Linked DNA regions of Homo sapiens: region 1 is linked to region 2. Evidence: fine-mapped expression QTL. A gene starts in region 2. The other region holds a variant in brackets. All regions are shown on one strand. Distances are from middle to middle. Region 1 overlaps SMIM36 (small integral membrane protein 36). Region 2 holds the start of SMIM36 (small integral membrane protein 36).

What was found. PIP is the estimated chance that this variant, and not a neighbour inherited with it, causes the effect. A credible set is the group of variants that fine-mapping cannot tell apart.
Region 1: its variant is the best candidate, but not a certain one, in a credible set for the expression of SMIM36 in testis (GTEx, PIP 0.73).

The regions. Positions count from the first base shown.
Region 1 is chr17:55,446,896-55,452,276 of GRCh38, reverse strand. SMIM36 (small integral membrane protein 36) reads left to right here. Exons shown (of 5, transcript NM_001395421.2): 5 at 1,979-2,421. Among named protein-coding and RNA genes, the nearest start is that of MMD, 28 kb to the right of the region's middle. The variant G/A (reference allele first, on the strand shown) is at 2,010.
Region 2 is chr17:55,509,174-55,514,554 of GRCh38, reverse strand. SMIM36 (small integral membrane protein 36) reads left to right here and starts at 3,103. Exons shown (of 5, transcript NM_001395421.2): 1 at 3,103-3,676. The coding sequence starts at 3,221. The coding sequence ends at 3,502.

The DNA.
Region 1 (5,381 bases), 62 kb after region 2:
CTACACCAAGAGTTCTCTAACTGTTCTGGGGAACATCTATATTCAGGAACATTTACACAAACTCCTGAACAATAGGATGTATGGCCAAATACACTTGGGCTTATTAAAACCATATGTGGGTCAAATATGCCAGGCTTATTAAAAGTGTTTCCTTTTTTTTTTTTTTTTTTTTTTGTAGAGATTGAGTCTTATGCTGTCACCCAGGCTGGAGTACAGTGGCCCAATCATAGCTTACTGCAGCCTCAAACTCCTGGGCTCAAGTGATCCTCCCTCCTCAGCCTCCCAAGTTGCTGAGGGCACCCACCACCTTGCCTGTCTAATTTTTAAAATCTTTTTATTTTTTGTGGCGACAAGGTCTCACTATGCTGCCCAGACTGGTCTCGAACTCCTGGCCTCAAGTGGTCCTCCTGCCTTGGCCTCCCAAAATGCTAGGATTACAGGCATCAGCCCCTGCATACAGTCTAAATTTAGTTTTCTTTAGAATTTTTCAGAGACTTTGATATGCATTGTTCAGGAGGAAAGAAAGAGTCTTAAATCTTTTGTGCAGGAAATATATAGTAAATTCCTTAGGTAGCCCAGTTTAGGAAAACTGGTAAATTCATTCATTCAACAGATATTTATTAAGTACCTACACTGTCAGGCACTGTGCCAGGTACAAAGAGGGTGTATCTTTCTCAAGAATTTTCATAGCATTTTTAATCTAGTGACAAGAGAAGACACTCAACAAATAAACAAGACTGTTTCAGCCTGTGATAAGAAACATATGGAGGAAACAGCCACTTCAAAGCCTCTGTGGGGAGCTATGTGAGCTGGAACTTGAAGATAAAACATAAGTCAGCCACAGGAAGAGCCATGGGGAAAGTATTCCAGGCAGACAAGAGCAAGTGCAAAGACACAAAGACAAGAAAGATCTTGGCCTGCTTCAAGGGCAACCCAAGGTCAGCCAGCTGGAGGTGCTGAAGGAGGGTGATGGATGGAGACACTGGTAGAAAATGAGGTTGGAGAAGGTGCGAGTATTGGATCATATAGGGTCCTGTTATGCCACCATCTGGAATTAGGGTCTTAGTCTATGGATGATAAGAAGCCATTAGGGGCTGGGCACAGTGGCTCACACCTGTAATCCCAGCACTTTGGGAGGCTGAGGAGAGCGGATTATGAGGTCAGGAGTTCGAGACCAGCCTGACCAACATGGTGAAACCCCATATCTACTAAAAATACAAAAATTAGCCAGGCGTGGTGGCGCATGCCTGTAATTCCAGCTACTCAAGAGGCTGAGGCAGGAGAATTGCTTGAACTCGGGAGGCGGAGGTTGCAGTGAGCCATGATCGTGCCACTGCACTTCAGCCTCGGTGACAGAGCGAGACTCCGTCTCAAAAAAAAAAGAAGCCACTATGGATCTTTAAGCAGAGAGTTGCTGGCAAAGGAGATGGAAAGAAGTGGGCAGATTAGAGATGTCTTCTTGGAGGTAAAGTTGGTGGACTCTCCAGTGTTACTGTGTAGACTCACGGGTGCCTAAACCTGTTGTCTACGCTCTGCCAGTATTGCCTTGTGCTTGTGAGCCTCTGTCTCCTAACTCAGCTGCAAGTTCCCTCTCTCTAGGCTGTAAGCAGAAAGCAAGGAGTACTATCTGGGTATTGCACCCGGGTTCCACGTCTGGGCTCACACTCAGCAACTGTGTAAATGTGGGCAAGTCGCTTCACTTCTCTGAGCCTCCACCATGTTCTCTGTGAAATGAAACCAAAGGAGACTAAGTGATCTACTTGCAACACTGTGAGATCCATGTTCTATGCTTCTGATGGCAGCAGAACTAGATAGAAAAGAATAAGGAATTTGCCCCACACCCCTTGAGAGAAAGCAACGAGGAAATGTAAAAGGTCAAAGATTAGATATGCTGTTAGTTTTCACTTGACTGCTGTAACAATTTAGCACACAATGAGTGTCTTAAAACAACAGAAATTTTTTTTCTTTCATATTCTAGAAGCCAGGAGTATGAAATCAAGGTGTCAGAG[G/A]GGCTGTACTCCCTCCGAAGGCTGCAGGAGAAAATCTATTGCTTGCCTCTTCTACCTTTTGGTGGTTCCAGGAGTTCCTTGGCTTGTGATCACATCACTGAAATCTTAACCTACCTGGTCATACTGCTGCCTCTTCTTCTCTCTCAAAACTTCTCCTGCCTCTCTTCATACTTGTGATTGCATTTAGGGTCCATCTGGGTACTCCAGGAAAAACTCCTACTGTCAAGATTTAACTTAATCATATCTTATGTCATATAAAGTCATGTTCAATATTTTACAACATAAAATAATAGTCACAGTTTCTGGAGATAAGGACATGGGCGTGTCTTTTGGGGGATCATCCTTCAATCCATTGCATCTATCTATCAGTGATCACCCCAACCCAAATAAACCCGCATAATATTTTCAGGTATCCATTTTTCCTTTTTCCAGGGTCCCTATTCCATGACTTTTGTTTCTTTCATTTCTCCTTCATAGTGCTCAATATTGGGCTTTGCACAGAGTAGACGGTTACTCAATGAGTGCTGCTCCCAAAAGAAACTTCCAGAAACCCTTTAGTAAGAGTATCCTGGGCCAGGCGCAGTGCCTCACTCCTGTAATCCCAGCATTTTGGGAGACCAAGGCGGGCAGGTCACTTGATGTCAGGAGTTCCAGGCCAGCCTAGCCAACATGGCGAAACCCCCTCTCTACTAAAGATACAAAAAAATGAGCTGGGCGTGGCAGCATGATTCTGTAGTCCCAGCTATTTGGGAGGCCGAAGCACGAGAATCACTTGAACTGGGGAGGTGGAGGTTGCAGTGAGCCTAGATTGCGCCACTGCACTCCAGCCTGGGCGTCAGAGCAAGACTCTGTCATAAAATAATAAAAATAATTTTAAAAAAGAGTATCCTATCCATTTCCCTTAAAACTCGAAGTTTGGAAAATCAGCTTTACACCAGTTGATCTGTAAGGCACAAAAGAACATACTTAGCTAGATGTAAAGTGATCAAGATTTTAGTCCCTACTCTAAACCAACTTGTTTATGACCCTGGATAGACAGGTCCCTCCAGCTGTCTAGACATTTGCTTTCTAAAGAGAGGGACTTACTACAGTTGGCTTCCCCAGAAGCCCTTATACCACTTACATTCCACAAGAATTCAAGAATAAATATGGTCTTTCTCAGGATCCTTTGAAATACATTATTTCCTTTAAGTTACAGAAGAAAAACACAACCTTTTGCCCTATCCTACTGCATATTGGCATGAAGTAGCTGCCCTAGAAGAAGAAAAGGATGAAGTGAGGTAAAACATCTTCATTTTCCAGTCCTGATGGCCCAGATCTGAACACTTGGGGCTTTTGCAATAAGGAGGGTCAAGTTTCAAAGATCGCTATCTCTGCAGTAAGCACTATTACCGTTTTGGAAAAAGTTAACAGATCCTTCAGCCAGCAAATATTCTTAGGCTTAGCAACATATAACTAACTGGATGTCTGTTTCTGTCTTCTACCCTCATCCTGCCCATCTCCCCCACCTCCCCCTCCCAACACCCGACCATATCCTCTGGAATACTTCCTCCCGTAAATAATTTGAAGAGCCAAGCATTAATTAGAGAAGTTATAACAGAGAAATCAAAAGAGGCACAGAAATAGGAAAAGAATTATCCGGTCCCTTTCATCACACTCCTTTACTTGGGCCTTAAAGGAAATATAAGAACTTTTGGCCAGGCGTGGTGGCTCAAGCCTGTAATCCCAGCACTTTGGGAGCCCGAGGCGGGTGGATCACGAGGTCAGGAGATCGAGACCATCCTGGCTAACACGGTGAAACCCTGTCTCTACTAAAAATACAAAAAAATTAGGCAGGCGTGGTGGCGGGCACCTGTAGTCCCAGCTACTTGGGAGGCTGAGGCAGGAGAATGGCGTGAACCCGGGAGGCGGAGCTTGCAGTGAGCCGAGATTGCCCCACTGCACTCCAGCCTGGGCAATAGAGCAAGACTCCATCTCAAAAATAAATAAAATAAATAAATAAATAAATAAATAAATAAATAACTTATGCCAGGGAGAAAAAAACATAGCATTAACTGAGCACCTACTATATACCAGGCCTTTTCCTGGTTATCTTACCCTCACAACAATCTGTGAAATAGATATTACATCCCCTTTAACAGATATGAACATAATAGCCAAAAGGTGGAAACAACTGAAATGTCCATTGATAGATGAACGGATAAAGAAAATGTGATATATATATATATATATAATGAAAGATTATTCAGTCTTAGAAAGGAATGAAATTCTGATACATGCTGCAACATGGATGAACCTTAAGACATTATGCTAAATGAAATGAACGATATACAAAAGGAGAAATATTATATGATTCCACTTACATGAGGTACCTAGAACAGGCAAGTTTTATAGAGACAGAAAGTAGAGTAGTGATTACCAGGGGCCACATGGAGGGGAATGGAAGTTATCATTCAATGGGCACAGAGTTTCTGCTTGGGATGATGAACCAGTTCTGGAAATGGATAGTGATGATGGTTGTACAACATTGCGAATGTTCTTAATGCTACTGAACCGTACACTTAAAAATGGTTAAAATGGGCTGGGTGCAGTGGCTCAAGCCTGTAATCCCAGCACTTTGGGAGGCCGAGGCGGGCGGATCACGAGGTCAGGAGATTGAGACCATCCTGGCTAACACGGTGAAACCCCGTCTCTACTAAAAATACAAAAAAATTAGCCGGGCGTGGTGGCGGACACCTGTAGTCCCTGCTACTCGGGAGGCTGAGGCAGGAGAATGGTGTGAACCCAGGAGGCGGAGCTTGCAGTGAGCTGAGATCGCGCCACTGCACTCCAGCCTGGGCGACAGAGCAAGAGTCCATCTCAAAGAAGAAAAAAAAATGGTTAAAATGATAAATTTTATGTTATGTATATTTTACTATAATAAAATAAAAGGATATGGAAACTGAGAGACTGATTGTCTCAAGCCTCATAGCCACTATTAGGGGAAGCCAGGGTTTGAGCCCATCTGTGTGACATGTGATAAATTATCATATAGGAGGAAAAAATTAGTAGTGATAATACTGATCTCCAGACAAAGCAAAAACCTCCTATGAAGAAACCTTAGCTTCTCATGTCTACCCTGAGCTAATTTCCTGACCTGAGGTTGTTTTTCAGATGACAACTGGATGGGTGGAAAGAATGTTAACACATCACTCATTGAATATTATCTAGCCACATCCTCGTAAGTCCCTTCTGTAGATGGCCTTATCTGCTGTTTTATCCTGTGGATCTAACTCTGTTTGAACTTTGAGAATAATTAAAGAACTAAAAGAAAAATAAATAAAGCTCTGGAAGCTTACAAATAACAGCAATAACGAGAGTAAATAGAGTGAT
Region 2 (5,381 bases):
GAAAAAGGGAATGAGAATAAGCTCATTCAATTCCACTGCCTCTTTAAGCTTCAATTTTCTCATTTTAAAAAATTGGGTTGATAATTCCTTTTTTCCTCTGAGCTCTACATTTGTTATACAGTGTGCTTTCAGTATCACATTATCAAGCTCTAAAGTGCTTAGTACCTTGCTAGCATATGGTAAGTGCACAATTCATATTTGTAATAAACGAAGGAATTAGTATGTCAAGGCTACCTCAAGGGGTTCTTCTGAAATGCAGCTTGTTATTGTTTTTACCTATGTCACCCTGTCATCCGTCCCAGTTTGCCTATTGCCAAGTTTTTTTCTTTATTTAGCAGCCCCTGCTTTGGCCACTAGATGGCACCAGAGGAAAGTTCCTTAAAGACAGCAAAAGAAGGAAAGATGGGTGAGGTTAGCCCCAGTATGAATAAAGGAGCCACCCAGGTTAATTAAGTAAAACAAGCACCCAGCATTTCACCGAAGACATTGCAAGGAAGTGAAGCCTTCATGAGACTGGACTTCAAATGAACTTTGAGCACTGGTGGAAACAGAAACAAAAAACTCTCTGCTAATAGAAATAAGATACTGGAACCAAAGACAATAGCCTTGAACAAAACATTCCGGGACACCACGGGTATCAGCAGAATGGGGGCAATCTAAGAAGACAGGCCAGACCAGATCACTCACCATGATTAATGATTATCACCATTACACAGAGAAACCTAGATCTGATATGAAAACTCCACTCAATAGAGCAGATCTGTTGCATATATTTCAGTTTAATTTAATGTGGACTAAACTATATGTAGTTCTCATTTCAGAGTCAATTTTAACCAATCCTTGTGTCATCTATTTAAAGTCACCAAATAACTCCCCTAAATATTGTTACATGGAGGCACCTGGGCTATCCAGACTCAGTTTACTATAGAAGTCACGAATCTAGAGTCCCGAGTGGGCAAAAGAAAGTAGGCATCTGGTACATAATGCTGCCTTTTAAAGCCTCGCTTCTGTCTGGTGCATTGCACGTGACTTACAGATGCAACAGACAACTCTACTTGCTGTGTGATTCTGTGCTTACCAGAAACTTTCCAATTATAAATGGACTTTTCCTGTAGATCTGCCTTCAGGAAGAAAAAGCTATGTCCTTGCAAGCACAAAATTAATTCTCTGAATCTGTCGGACTTAAAACCTTGGACAGTGTTGAATTCTGTGTTGAATGCCCCCTGGAATAGCTCTTCACAGATCACCAAAGCCCTGGTGACCGCATATTGGCCCATTTTCTTCACGTCCTTTTTTTCTACTTTTATAGCCATGATTCTCCATCCTGGTTGCAGATCAAAATTATCCATGAAGATTTTTATTAATACAGATCCCCAGACTCTAGTCCCAAAGATTCTAACTCAGTAGATCTAGGGTTGATCCAGGTATCTGTATTCAAAAGAGACCCAATAGATTCCAATAAGGCTGACCCTAAATCTATGGTGTTTCAGAATCATGCATCTTCTGGATTATAATTCCATAAGTTAGTCCAGGACCATAGAATCATGGACGATATTATTTGGAAAAACGTCTCCAGATGCATAAGAACCCCATACTACAACATCTTCAAATGCTCAGGTTCCCATGGAAGCTCAGTATAAAGGAGGCTGACAGGAAGACACTAGCCCATTGAAGCTTAACACTAAGAAACCAGCAGACCTTTGGGAACTTCAGCTTTTAACTAGGAGTATCCAAAAAGTCCTATTAGCTATTGGAGAAAAGGCTACTGATGCCCTAGCTGGCCAAAAATACATATATGAGACCAAGACCAGATACGTAATTTGTGGGTCCCAGTGCAAAGTTGAAAAGTTAAGAATTTCAAGATGGCAACAGCAGAGCATTAAACCAAGTGTGAGCTCTTTCTGAGAATGGAACGTTGTGCAGCTGCACAGGGCACATGCCCATGAAGTAGCCTATGCGGGACTATTGGGACCAGGCTACAACTGAGGCAGGACAGTGATTTGTACATCAAGGAATAACTGTAATCCGATCAGTATCTGATCTTCCTCTCAATTTGCTTGTTTTTCTGCATCCTTGAGGCAGCCTTTGGGAATCTCTTTAAAATGCAAATTCAGTAGTGTCACTCCCCTGTGCAAAAGCATTCAATGGCATCCCATTGCTCTAGGATCATATCTAAAGTCCTGAGTATGGCCCACAAGTGCCTGTGCCTTCTGGCCCCTGTCTACCTCTCCCACCTTGTGCTCCCATTCTCTTTATGCTCCAGTCACACTGCCCTTGTTTCAGTGCTTGCAATTTTCCAGGCTCCTTTCTCTTCGGGTCTTCACATATGCAGTTCTTTGTGGCTAGAAGAATCTTCCCTGTCTCTTCTCACTTAGCTAAATTCTACTTATCCTTCAGGTCATAGGTTAAATGTTGCTTCTGCATGGAAGCTTTTTTGACCCACACTGGGACACGCTGTCCTCTTACCCTCTATTTGTCCCTTATAAACTGATTTCCACTGTTCTTAAATGGCGAATTGTGCAATTATCTGTTTAAAGGCTATCTTTCCTGCTAGACTACCTGCTTCTCTGTCTTATCACTGCCATATCCCCTTTGCTTAGTGTAGTGTCTGAAACACAGGAAGTAAGTACTCAAAAAGTAGTTTTGAATTAACTAATGAGAAACATGGCAACAAATGAAGAAAGGGTGAAAATATCAGGCACTAGTATCTTCTTCTTGTTGAAGAATCACATTTACTTCCAAAGCCTACTGACCTAATCTTCCAAATCACTCCATACATGGCACTAAACATCCCTTATACAAAGACAGCACAATTGTCCAGGACAATCCAATTTTTAGCTGTCATCATGGAGTGCTTATTAACAACACTTACTTTTGCTCACCAAACTGCCTGTGTGGATGCTGAATTATGTGAATGCTCTACTTATATACCATGATCCAGTAACTCATGAGCCATCTCTCTCTCTCTCTTTCTCTCTCTGTGTAGGCGAACTGATGACAGACAGCTTCTGTGTTTTGGTGGCTGTGGTATTAACAGCAAGCTTAAGTTATTAAACCGAGCAGCTTTAATCCTCGAGGTCTCCTGGAGCAGTAGGGATTAATGTATTTTTACTCCAGAGCCAATGTAGCTATTCCGATGCTCTAAGATCTGCTCTCTGCAATGCCCAAACTGACCCCAATTGCCTTTCTCTAGACCCACTTCTCCACCGTGGGAGAAGTGATGGAATTCTACTTGGAGATCGACCCTGTTACCTTGAACCTGATCATCCTAGTTGCGAGCTACGTCATCTTGCTCCTGGTCTTCCTCATCTCCTGCGTGCTATACGACTGCCGAGGCAAGGATCCCAGTAAGGAGTACGCGCCCGAGGCCACTCTCGAGGCCCAGCCCTCCATCCGGTTGGTGGTGATGCACCCAAGTGTCGCTGGGCCCCACTGGCCAAAGGGGCCTGGCCTTTCTTTGGGGGATCCTGCTCCACTAGGAAAGAAAAGCACCATGGTATGAGGCTGGCTAAGGGACACTGGGGAGAGACCACTAGACTTTCCATAGAGACAAACTGCTCCCTATCGTGGCTCCAATTCTCTCAGCACATGTATCCCGCTTGATGAAGGAAGTGAGAGCTCTGTCTTACTTGCTGTTTTCTCGTCACCTTCTTTGTGACAAAAGTAACTGTTTAAGGTAAGAAGCCCAAAGTGGTCTTTAGTCAAATTCTCCAAATGCAAACTGTCAGCAATGCTGTAGTATAATGAAGTTGGTTACTGGTACATTTCTGATGTTGCTGTCCTTGCAACTCACAGGAGAGAATGACTTTTGAGAAAGGATGCAATATTGTGTGTGTGTGTGTGTGCACGTGCACGTGCGTGTGTGTGATAAGGAATGAGACTAACTCCAGTCTAGTCTATTCTTTGCAAATTCTTTCTTTCCAAGGCAACCAGTTTTTTGTTGTTATTTTTCTTTTCTTTAAGAGACAGAGTCTTGCTCTGTTGCCCATGCTTAAGTGCAGCAGCGTGATCATAGCTCACTGCAGCCTTGAACTGGGCTCAAGCAACCTTCCCACTTCAGCCTCCCATGTAGCTAGGACTCTAAGGTCATGACACCACGCCTGTCTTTTTTTTGTAGAGATGGGGTTTCACTATGTTGCCCAGGCTGGTATTGAACTCCTGGCCTCAAGCAATCCTCCTGCCTCAGTCTCACAAAATGCTGGGATTATAGATGTGAGCTGCTGCACCCAGTCAAGGCAACCCCATTGAACTTGTTCAGACTTCAGAACATTATTATTTCTGTACCTACCAGCTCTTCACGTTCTATTCCCAACTCCAAGACAGAATAAGGAATGCATACAACTAAAACAACAAAGCTTGGAGCCTGGGTTCAAATCCTGCCTCTTCTACTTGCTAGCTGTGTGGCCATGGTTAAGTTGAGCCACCTCTGTGTCTCAGGGATAGTGATTGGACCACTAAGCTTTTGGGGCTATTTAAATGAGTTAATTCACCAAAAGCACTTGAGACAGTTCTTGACACACAGGGTTAGCTATGATGATGATCACTGATAATATTTCCTTCCATATGCCTCATAAAAAATTTAATCTCCAATCCTCAAATCCGGCCTGATCCAATACAAAGTTATTGAAAACTCATTGAAAGAATTCTGAGACCCCACAGCTTGGTGTATCTGTCCCCAGAACACTGCCTGCTCTCCCTTCACTCTCTTTGTTGATGTTGAATGGTATGTTTTTTCCCCTGTTCATTAGTCTATTTCCAAAATTTTTGAATTATTATCTCCATTGTGTGTATTTTTATTAACCCTCCCTTCCCTGAGCTCAGAGAAACGTATGTATTTACTTTGAGATTTACTGAACCTCTTCTTTCCATCAGGACCTGTGTGGAAATAAAGAGAAATGAGTGTCATGACCCTGCCATATGATCTTTGCCGCCCAACAGAAGGAAGCAGGGTCAGGCATGACTTAGACAATGAAAGATAAGAAAGCTTTGCAGATGCTCTTTTAGAAGTCTGCATAGGATGCAGGAGTCAACAGAGACACGAGTGTCTGGCACACAGAAGACACTCAAGAAATATTCGAATAATGTTGAATGGCCAATTTCATCTTAGACTCAGGTACCAAAGATAAGATGATTTGTCTTAAAAGATAAGTAGTTATTTTTCCAGAAGAACCAAAGTATGTTGGAATCTTGAAGGGTAGGACAGGAGATGGCCTTTTAGAAGAAGAAATAACAAAAACAAAGCTTGAAAGCAAAATAATTAGAGTCCATTGGTTGTGAAGGTCTGATGGTGTCCAACATGTGAAGAAAACGTGAGAAATTCAATTTTGGTTTCTCCTGTAGAAAACTGAAGAGGAGGGCCTGGCCAGCCTGCCCTGCCAGCT